Regions from separate parts of the Homo sapiens genome. Here region 2 is linked to region 1. Evidence: fine-mapped expression QTL. A gene starts in region 1. The other region holds a variant in brackets. All regions are shown on one strand. Distances are from middle to middle.

Evidence for each region. PIP is the estimated chance that this variant, and not a neighbour inherited with it, causes the effect.
Region 2: its variant is fine-mapped to the expression of MMP15 in whole blood (INTERVAL, PIP above 0.99). The same link has a PIP of 0.9 or more in blood mononuclear cells.

The regions. Positions count from the first base shown.
Region 1 is chr16:58,023,290-58,028,289 of GRCh38, reverse strand. It overlaps MMP15 (matrix metallopeptidase 15), which reads right to left and starts at 2,536. Exons shown (of 10, transcript NM_002428.4): 1 at 1,778-2,536. The coding sequence starts at 1,939. RefSeq lists enhancers at 872-1,421, 1,972-2,521, 2,754-3,339, 3,340-3,927 and a silencer at 2,388-2,527.
Region 2 is chr16:58,106,628-58,112,139 of GRCh38, reverse strand. No RefSeq gene overlaps it. Among named protein-coding and RNA genes, the nearest start is that of CFAP20, 20 kb to the left of the region's middle. RefSeq lists an enhancer at 2,653-2,702. The variant C/T (reference allele first, on the strand shown) is at 2,652.

The sequences.
Region 1 (5,000 bases):
GATCAGGAGCACGGTTTGTGATAACGCAACCATGGCTTCTTCCCTGGCGGCATCGAGCTGTGGGCACTCCCTGAGCTGGGGAGTTGGGGTAGGGGTGAGATGGAACTGGAAAAGCAGAAGAGAGAGAGAGTGAAGCCCCTCCAACTACAGGTCCCTGCACCCCTGAGCTCCTGGCCAGCTAGGATGCCATTAGCAATGCACGGCCATTGAATTCCATCACTGCTTCCTATGTATTGACGCCATCCCTAAGTAGATTAGAAACTCAATGGTGGGACTGTGACTTGAAATTCTTTGGCACTCCAGCCCAGAGTGGCAGGTGGGCCCAAATGGCACTCTCCGCCCAGTACTTGGGTCACAGGCTGAGGGGTAATCCTCACCAACAGGAGCCCCCTAAAGCTCCTCCTGCCTGTGTGAATGGGGTGGGGGAGGGTGGCCAGACTGGGTCGGGGCGGGGCTCCTATCCTGCCTCCCACCAGGGCCTGGCTCCTCCTTCAGCTCTCCCTGGCCAGGCCAGGGAGGGAGGGCAGAGCAGGTGGGGAAATGGCTGGGAGGTGTAACTCGAGCCCAGGAGGAATTCCCTGCCCTTCCTCTATGCTTTTATTAAAGTAGGGCGGGGAAGGGCAAGCTTCCATCGGAAAAATCTCCCAGGCAGCCCGGAGAGGTGGGAAAGCCGCCGTGGGCCAGGGAGGGAGCACCAGCTGAGCTGCAAATAGAAACGGCGCTCAGGCCCGCAGCCCGGGCAGCCCAAGGGCACCAAGGCCTGAGCACCGTTCAGAAGCGGCTCCGGGGTGGTTCTTTCTCCCTACTCCCCGCCCAAGTCCTCTCCCCGCCTATCTGGGGCAGGGCGCAGGTCTTAGAAGTCGGGGAAGAGTGGACCCTGCTCTTGCTCTGGGGCAAGAAAGCTGGCGCCTTCGGTGTCCTCGCTCGGGAGACACCATGGAGCTGGGGCGCTGGCTGGACTCGGCTCTACGCCGGGATGTCGCGCCTGGTCACCCGCGGGACCCATCCAGAGCGGGGCCCCGGGAGGGACGCCAAGCGGGCTCCTAGCGAAGAGAGGCGCGGGGTCCACCCTCTCGAATCCAGGGCTTCGACGTAGGGGCGCTGTTGGGAGGAAGCGCTGTGGGAGGCAGGGTCCGTCCTTAGGACCCCGCCCGGGCGTGCCTAGGCTTCCTCGCAAAAGCGCAGAAAGTCGCCAAAGCGCCCCCGCAACCCGAGTCCGCTGCCTCAGCCGTTTGCACCCATCCCCCCGCCTCCATCCTGGCCCGCCGTGCGCGGCTCGGTATCACCCAGACGGGAGGCCACCTGGGCAGGAGCGCAGTTGCCCAGCCGCCCAGCTCTTGCTCCGCCTGTGGCTGTCCCCGAGAGCAGCCCCCTCCCCACTCGCAAAGAGCGCCACTGCGCGCCAGCCGGGCTCTCGAGGAATCGGCTGCCCTGGAGGGAAGGAAGGAGGGGAGGCAAGGGCTGGGGGCGGCGGAAGCGGCTCCCGGGACACAGGCTGAATGTAAGGGGGTCGGGGTGGGGGCTCAGTGCCCAGAACAGGGCTGTAGGAGTAGCGGGGAGGAGAGCGAGGCCCTGCGCCCTCAAGGGTTTGCGAAGAGGTGCGCTGCAGAGGGCGAGCTGGGGAGGGGCAGACTGCCAAGTCCGCTTGCTTCCCCGCCACGGCCCAGAACAGGGGGCGCGTCTCCGCTCCCTCCACCTCCAAGTCCCAGCCTGCGGACGTGGCGCCTCTCCCTCCAAGCCCCCAGCCCGCAGCCAAAGGGCAGGGCGGGGGTCTTACCTCGGCATGGACCTCCGCGTCTTCGGCCGCTACGCCAAGGCCCAGGCAGCCCAGAAGCACCAGGAGCAGCGGCAGCAGTCGCGGCCGCGCCGCCTCCTCCCGGTCGCCGAGGAGGCTGCCCGTCCAGCCCGGCCGTCCGGGCGCGCTCGGGTCGCTGCCCATGCTCTCGGCGCCCAGCCCAGCTCGGAACACTGCACGCCGGATCCTCGCACGCGCCTTGGAAACTTGCGACGCTCCCTGGCTCCTGGCCCGGCAGGCGCGCCGCGGACCTCGGGCTCCCGGTCCCCGCCGGAGCCGCCTAGGTCGCCTCGGCAAATTCCCAAGCCCGAGGAGAAGCGGGCAGGGCAGGTCCGGGAGCTCGGAACCAGCCGGCGGGAAAGGGGGCCGACCGGAGCTGCCCCCGGCGAGGTTCCGCAGCCTCGGCGCCCAGCGCCTGGGGCCCGGCTCCCGAGAGCAAGCGCAACTCCGGAGCCTTTGTCTGGCTCAGCGCTCCGGCCGCCCGGTCCCGCGGCGCTCCCTGCGCGCCCAGCTCCCTCTGTCCATGCCCGGGGCCGGGCGCTGCCCGGAGCGCGCGCCTCCTGCACGGGGATTCTGCTCGCCGCCGCGCCCGACCGGGCCCGGGTCCCCAAGCAGTCCCGGGAGGAGGCGCAGGGAGCCGACCCGAGAGAGCGAGCGAGAGAGCAAGCGAGCCAGCCAAGGAGCGGGCGCCCGACGTCCCCGGCGAGTTCAGCGCGGCTCCGGGCGCTCCCAGCCCTCCTCCCCGCGCGCCGCGGCCGCCGCGCTCTTAAAGGGCCAGTGTGCTCCCAATGCGCGGACCCGGGCGGGGACCGGGGGCGGTGCCCCAGCCGCAGGCTTCTCACAAGCAGGTGCGGGCGGCCGAGGCCCGACAGGTGGGCGGTCCGTTTACGCTTCCCAGACGGCAGGAAACCTCTCCAGCCCACCCCGCGTCACTCCCAACCCAGCGCCTAGGGGGCGGGGGTGACCTCCAACGCGACCCCCCGCGGAGGGAGGAGGCAGGGAAGGCGTGGTCTCCCCGCCTGGGAAGAATGAAGACTCCTCCTTCTCATACCTGGTGGGGGATACCGAGGCCTAGGCGGACGGGAAGGAGGTCTTAGGGGAGGGATCAAAGAGTCGTTTTAGGCTTAAATATAAATATATATGTATATATGGATATTTGTCAGCCTGAAACCTCTTTTCAAAAGCCGCAGGGTGTCTCTGGCCATTGAATAACTTTCCTCAGTAGCAAAGTGAGGGTTTTGTGCGCGTCGAGGGCGCGTTGCGGCGGACAAGGGGCAGGTTTAGGAGGGACACGGTTCAAGTTCCGCGTCCGCCCCTTAGCTGCCGCTTGCACGTGGGCAAATTAATCTCTCCGAGCCTCCATGTTCTTATCGGGAACGTGGGGCAAAGAGTTGGGGTGAGGGCGAGGTAAGACTTCCGGCTCCTGGCCTGGCGCAATAGGTGCCCAAGCACTTTGGCCACTGGCTGGTGCGAGTGAAGTGCGACAGTGCGGCCGGAGTCGGCGCGGGGCGGGTGGACACACCTCCCCGCGAAGCTTAACGAGCTGGATTTCATTCTATTCCGGAAGCAGCTTGAGGTCGGGGCGGGGTGGATGCAGGAGGCCAGAGCTGGGAGGCCCGGGTCGAAGGTCCACCGAGACCCGGGGACCAGGCCAAGGGCAGCCCTGGCGCGGCGGACTGGCCGGCGTGGTCAGTGGGTGAGGGTTGCAGGCAGGAGGGCGGAGACCGAAGATAAGCTGTTCCTTATCTTCAGACCCGGAAATGGAAGCCGTCCTCACCTGAGGGCGGTTTTCTCTAGAGCAGGCCCTCGGGGCACCCTAGCCGGCCTCACCTCCCGGAAACTGGAAATCAGGAGACCTGGCAGAGTGCCTTAGAGAGGGCGCGTTTGAACCCTCCTGGGATGTCCTTGGGGAAAGGAAGTCGGAGTTTAGAGAAAGGAACCGGGCGATTCTATCATTTCCACGGACTCACTTCTCTGTGGGATCCTTCATCTGGGAAGTTGGTTTCTAAATTCTCCACTTCGAAATTTGCTTTTGGGAAATGTGCAGTGGTCTTCAGACACGGACAACGGGGTTGTCCTTGTTTAACCGACCACGTCGCACTCTTTCATGATATTTAGTCCCGATTAGCCAATTTTAAAAAGTTTGGGGCTAGGTAAAGTGGCTCAAGCCTGTAATCCCAGCACTTTGGGAGACCGAAGTGGGAGGATTGCTTTAGCCCAGGAGTTCAAGACCAGCCTGGGCAACATGACAAGACCCCATCTGTACAAAGAATACAAAAATTAGCCAGGTGTGGTGGTGTACGTCTGTAGGCCCAGCTACTTGGGAGGCTGAGTTGGGAGGATCACTTGAACCCAGGAGGTTGAGGATGCAGTGAGCTATGATCATGCCGCTGCCCTTCAACCCGGCTGTCAGAGCGAGACACTGTCTCAGAAAAAAAGAAAAAAAAAGTTGGGGTTTAAGGGGCTAGCTGTTAGTGAGAGGAGCCCAGGAATGAGTGGAGCAACGTTCTTTGAGGCCTGGGTCGGTCAAGTCTGGTGATTTTCTCTCTGTTGGAGGTTCCTCTCTTGGGGTCCAATCCTGCCTTAAGGAAATGACATCCCCTGTGACCAGATCTTGAAGCTCCCAATTATTGGTTCTGGCTCCTATAGGTACTTTGGGAGTCCAAGGTGGATTTGCATCTACATCCAACCCAAGATAGCTGGGTTTCTACTGGGTCTGGACAGCACCCAAAGCCCGAAAGGACTAGTCAGTGGGACTGAGATGTGTGAACTGCAGCCCTTCCATCAAGTAGCTTTAAACCTTATCCATATTTTGCCAATACCGTTTCATCTATGCCCTGACACCCCCGCCCACCACCACACACCTTTTTTTTCTTGGTCTTTTGAATGAAAGCCCAGACATGGTGTTTCAGAGCAGTTTCATTTAGAGGTCCCGATGTGGTGTGAGGGATTGTAAAAAGCTCTGGATCAGAAGCCAGGTCCCTGGGTTTTTGCCTCAGCTGTAATTTACTGGGCAATCCGAGCAAGTTATTCCCCTCTTTGGGTTTGTTTCCTCATTTGCAAAAGGAGAGTTCTGAGGTCGTAGGGGAGGTCTCCTGTTCAGTGAAGGAAAGTAGCTGTGGGATGGAACTAGGCCCAGGACACCCCCTCCCCCAGCTCTCCCCTCCAGGGGCCCCTCGGGCGATGCACCCACCCGACCCACCAT
Region 2 (5,512 bases), 84 kb before region 1:
ATCACTTGTATACTCTCTTCTACTATTAAAAAAAACAATGTTTTTGGCCAGGCGTGGTGGCTCACGCCTGTAATCCCAACACTTTGGGAGGCCAAGGCAGGCAGATCACTTGAGGTCAGGAGTTTGAGACCAGCCTGGCCAACATGGTGAAACCCCATCTCTACCAAATATAAAAAATTAGCTGGGTGTGGTGGCGCGCTTCTGTAATCCCAGCTGCTTGGGAGGCTGAGGCAGGAGAATTGCTTGAACCTGGGAGGCAGAGGTTGCAGTGAGCTGAGATAGTGCCACTGTACTCCAGCCTGGGTAACAGCAAGACTCTATCTCAAAAAAAAAATTTTTTTTGGAAAGACATTTTTGTAATAAAAATTTCAAAGTTAATGCAAGAGCAAAAGGCTATTCCAGATTCTGTGCCCTCCCCAGTCACTCCCCGGGGTTTGCTGTCATTGCACAGACTGGAACTGTGGGCACCTGCCATTTTGACTTTGGTTAGAGGTAAAAACATTAAGTTCTGGGATTTGTCATTACCATTGCTGCCTTCTGAGAAGTTAAATGGCAGGAAGCACGCTTTCCCCACATCCGTATCCTCCAGAGTATGCTGTGGGGAAGCATGGCCAAGTCTCTGAGGAGGCAGGGGCTACAGGAGGTGGAGAAGTGGAGGGGAGGGTGCTCCACAGCTACCTGATGAGACAGTTGTCAAGTGCCTGAAACTCAGGTGGGCGCAGTTAAGACAACTTTCCCCTTTTTCCTTCTGCTGGTGACCAGCCTGGAGCCACCTTCTGGAGGATGCTGCCCCTCTCCTTTGAGTCCCTAGTCATCAGCATCACAGAACACACCCCCTCAGCCCAGGTGACAGAGCCTGCTCTTGCAGGGCTAACTCTGGTCAAAACTGAACGTCGTCCTGCTTCCCTGTGCTTAGCATGTCAGCATCCCCCTCTTAGGCAGTGTGCCTGTCTCCTTCACTTTCTTGCTTACAATAGGAATCCTCAAATGGCTGAGTGGGTGGAGGGGTGGGCAATAACCAACAGAGTGTCTAGCCTCTGGCCACTGTCTAGTGAAATCTTCCCTCCAATCCAGACTCGATTATGGCATGAAAGATGCTTTTGTGATGACAAGAAAACCGCGTTAACTTCTCATCTCTTCTGGGTGCCAGGATATCAGTGAAGTGCTCCTGGGGGTTCAGAGCAACACAGGGAGGCACTCTCCTCCACACAGAGCCTCTTTCACCCCAGGCACTTGTTAGACCGTGTCTGGGGATTACCTCACCACCCTTTGGGGTGGTAGGTGGTGACTTCCCAGATGCCTCACATACCCATCCCAGAGGAAGAAGGAAGCGAGGGGCCCCGGGGGTGATGAGAGGTATTATCTGAGCTGGCCCCAGGCCAGGGTGAATAGTGGTGTCATGACTGCACAGCCCCTTGCCTGCAGCTTTCCAGCTCCCCAGGAAGACGACAACCTCCAGTGAGGCTGAGGGAAGAGGGAATGACAGGCTGCTGGGCTGAGGCGCCCTCATGGAGTTTGGGCCTGGGTGATCTCGGATCACGGTAATTGGAGCAGGCAGAATTGCATTATCCAGCTCCTTGGAAGTCACAGTGTGTTTTAGAAGGAATTGCCCTCTAAATGAGAGAGTGTTAGTTAATTGGCATGAACTTGGAATAGCACACAGCCGTTCCCAACAGGGCTGATTCTGGGGGAGAGTAGATTTACTCTGGCCCTTAATTGCCCCTGGCCCGTTGATTGCTTCCTCTATAGCCAGGCTAGAAGACTGGCCGGCGCCACACCAGTCAGCTCCTGGGGCATTTCTGAAGGTTGCAAGAATCCCAGAGAACAACCCCAAACCGATGTCCCTAGCCCCTCAGTGGCTTCACCCAGAAGCCCTAAGTGTCAGGAAATTCACTGAAAAAGATCTTGCAGCTCTTGTCTGCATCCTCATCCCCTCATTTTACTGATCAGGACACTGAAGCCCAGAGAGGGATGGGCTAGCCCCTCTAGAAACAACGGGGTGGAACGAGGACCCCATGCTCCTGAGGAGACCCATATGCCATCCCTGTCCTCTTTTGTGTTGGCATCCCCTTGCATCAAGCACTGGAGTCAGCTCTGCCCAGCAGTGAGGGCTGGCCTGCCCAGTCACTATGTGGTCACATATTAGTTGAACACAAGGGTCTGAGGCTGACAGTAAAAATCTCATTTGTGTTTAACCAGGGAATCATAAAAGTAATACATGCTCATGGTACATTCATGAGCTCATGGTTCAAAGAATATGAAGGGCTGGGCACGCCTGTAATCCCAGCACTTTGGGAGTTCGAGGCAGGTGGATCACTTGAGATCAGGAGTTTGAGACCAGCCTGGCCAACAGGATGAAAGCCCATCTCTACTAAAATACAAAAAAATTAGCCGGGCGTGGTGGCGTGCACTGCTAATCCCAGCTACTCAGAAGGCAGAGGCAGGAGAATTGCTGGAACTTGGGAGGCGGAGGTTGCAGTGAGCTGAGATCGCACCACTGTACTCCAGCCTGGGCAACAAGAGTGAAACTCCATCTCAAAAAAAAAAAAGAAAGAATATAAAGTAACATATAAGTCCCACTTCCCATTTCTGAAATGACAGCACCCGAATGTATTAACAGAATGTAGTTGCCCTTTCTTCCTGCACCCAGC[C/T]GCCTAGCATGAACAGCTTTTTCAGTTTCCTGATCGCTGTCATGTGTGTTCTCTCAGGAGCCTGGGAAGGCCTGGCACTGCAGATGACTTCTAACGACAATGGAGACCCACGCAGTACATGGCAGTGCTTTTCAGAAGGTAGCATGCTTTCATAGCCGTTGCATGTGGCGCCCTTGGGATCCTGTCTGGAAGGTTATATGTGGCGCTGCCCCCATCTATGGACAAGCACAGAAGTTAAATAGCTCACAGGGGCTGCATGGCTCACATGGGCCAGAGCTGGGAATAAAGCCTAGGGCTTCCTGCTAGAAGGTCAGGCTCCTGATGCTGAGCACAAGTGTCTGCTCATAAGGCATCTAGAATAGACTTGAATAGGCCGGGCACAGTGGCTCATGCCTGCAATCCCAGCACTTTGGGAGGCCGAGGCGAAAAGAACAACTGAAGTCAGAAGTTTGAAACCAGCCTGGCCAACATGGTGAAACCCTGTCTCTACTAAAAACGTAAAAATTAGCTGGGCATGGTGGGCACCTGTAATCCCAGCTACTCAGGAGGCTGAGTCAGGAAAATCGCTTGAACCCGGGAGGCGTAGGTTGCAGTAAGCCAAGATTGTGCCACTGCACTCCAGCCTGGGCAACAGAGCAAGACTGTCTCTAAATAAATAAGGATAGACCTAATTGGTTGGAGGGCGGGGGGTGCACAATGTACCTTTCCCACAGGAAGATGAATCTACTGAATTTTAATTCATATTCTTAAATTATGTTGCTGGGCCAGGCACAGTGGTTCATGCCTGTAATCCCAGCACTTTGGGAAGCCAAGGCGGGATGATCACCTGGGACCAGGAATTTAAGACCAGCCCAGGCAACACACCGAGACCCCATCTCTACAGAAAATAAAAAACTTAGCCAGGCATGGTAGCATGCATCTGTAGTCTCAGCTACTGGGGAGTCTGAGGTGGGAGGATCACTTGAGTCGGGGAGGTGGAGGCTGCAGTGAGCTATGATTGCACCACTGCACTCCAGCCTGGGTAACAGAGCAACACTCTAAAAAAATAAATAAAAATCCAGCAAATTCAGAGTCCTTGGCCCTGGCCTATTTAAAATGCATATTTCTGGGACCCAGCTTATTAAAATGACAATTGTCCCCACCCCAAGAGATAACATTTTTATTCTCTCTCTCTGTCTAAAGCCAACCCAGAAATCTGCATCTTAATACCTTCTCCTGGTGTTTTTTGGTGATTCTGTCATCTGAGAGTGGCTCCACATTTGAGTGAGTGGATATGATACATCTGAGCGTAGAGAGGTCAGACACTGCTGGGAGAGAAAAGAAACGTAAAACACCGCCCTCCCCGCCCCCACCCACCACCCAGGCACATCTGCAGATTGCAACCTCCTCCTACCAAAAACAAACAAACAAAAGAACCCTTAAGTTCCTCCTTTTATACAGAATTCTAATATGTCATTGACATCTCCATACATTTTCCATAACCTGAAAGTGTGAGGTCCTGTAATGCAAATCACGAGTGCCTCTGGGCTGTGATAGAGGCACTCCAAATTGCAAATCCACAAGACATTGAACATCTGGATAGAGCATGAGCCTTGGAAAAATCATGCCTCTTGGTATCCATGGTGTCTGAAGCGAAGCAAAGCAAAACAGTGTGCCAGGGGTGGATATGGAAAGGGATTGAACAGAACCCCTTGTTAAAGGGGTATAAAAGGTCACCAAGCTCCTCTACTCTTCTATTGAATGACAGCAATAAATATCAATATAAGCCTCCATGGGTTCTCTCATCACTTGGGTATCCCCCAGCCCCTGTTTCCATAAAGTCTTAAATTGTAAATCCTGGTATTTTGGAGGGAATACAGTAAAATCAATAAATACAGTAAAATCGGGCCATAAATACACTAGCCTTTGGGTTCCAAGTCACTCTCCAAAGCTCCTTCCCATCCTCCAAGACTGTCCTCATGTTTACTTGAACCTAAAGCCTCTTTACAAGCCTGAGACCTCTTTTCTTGGTATTAGAAACTGACCTAAGCCCCCAGCAGTAAAAGGCAGGGAGAGCTGTAGTTCTCATTCCCTCCACCTGACTGCTGGTAGTGTGCTACAATGAAAGCAAATCTCAGCCCTTAAGGAAGGAGAAAAAAAATTATTAGTGAGCATGCAAAATAGGTTCATGCCACCTACACCTAAAGCTCGGTGGAAGTGCATGTTTTAGGATGTATGATGATATGGTTTGGCTGTGTCTCCACCCAAGTCTCAAATTGTAGCTTCCATAACTCCCCTGTGTTGTGAGAGGGACCTGGTGGCGGGTCTTTGCCATGCTGTTCTTGTGATAGTGAATAAGTCTCATGAGATCTGATGGTTTTATTTAATTATTATTATTATTATTATTATTATTGAGACAGAGTCTTGCTCTGTCACCCAAGCTGGAGTGCAGTGGCATGATCTTAGCTCACTGAAACCTCCGCCTCCCAGGAGTGATTCTCCTGCCTCAGCCTCTGGAGTAGCTGGGATTACAGGTGCACACCACCATGCCTGGCTAACTTTTTTTGTAGTTTTAGTAAAGACGAGGCTTCACCATTTTGGCATGGCTGGTCTAAAACTTCTGACATCAGGTGATCCACCAGACTTGGCCTCCCAAAGTGCTGGGATTACAGGCATGAGCCACCATGCCCTGCTGGTCTGATGGTTTTAGAAAGGAGAGTTCCAGCCGGGTGCAGTGGCTCACACCTGTAATCTCAGCACTTTGGGAGGCCGAGGCAGGTGGATCACCTGAGGTCAGGAGTTCAAGAGCGGCCTGACCAATATGGTGAAACCCCGTCTCTACTAAAAATACAAAAATTAGCCAGGCATGGTGGCAGGCGCCT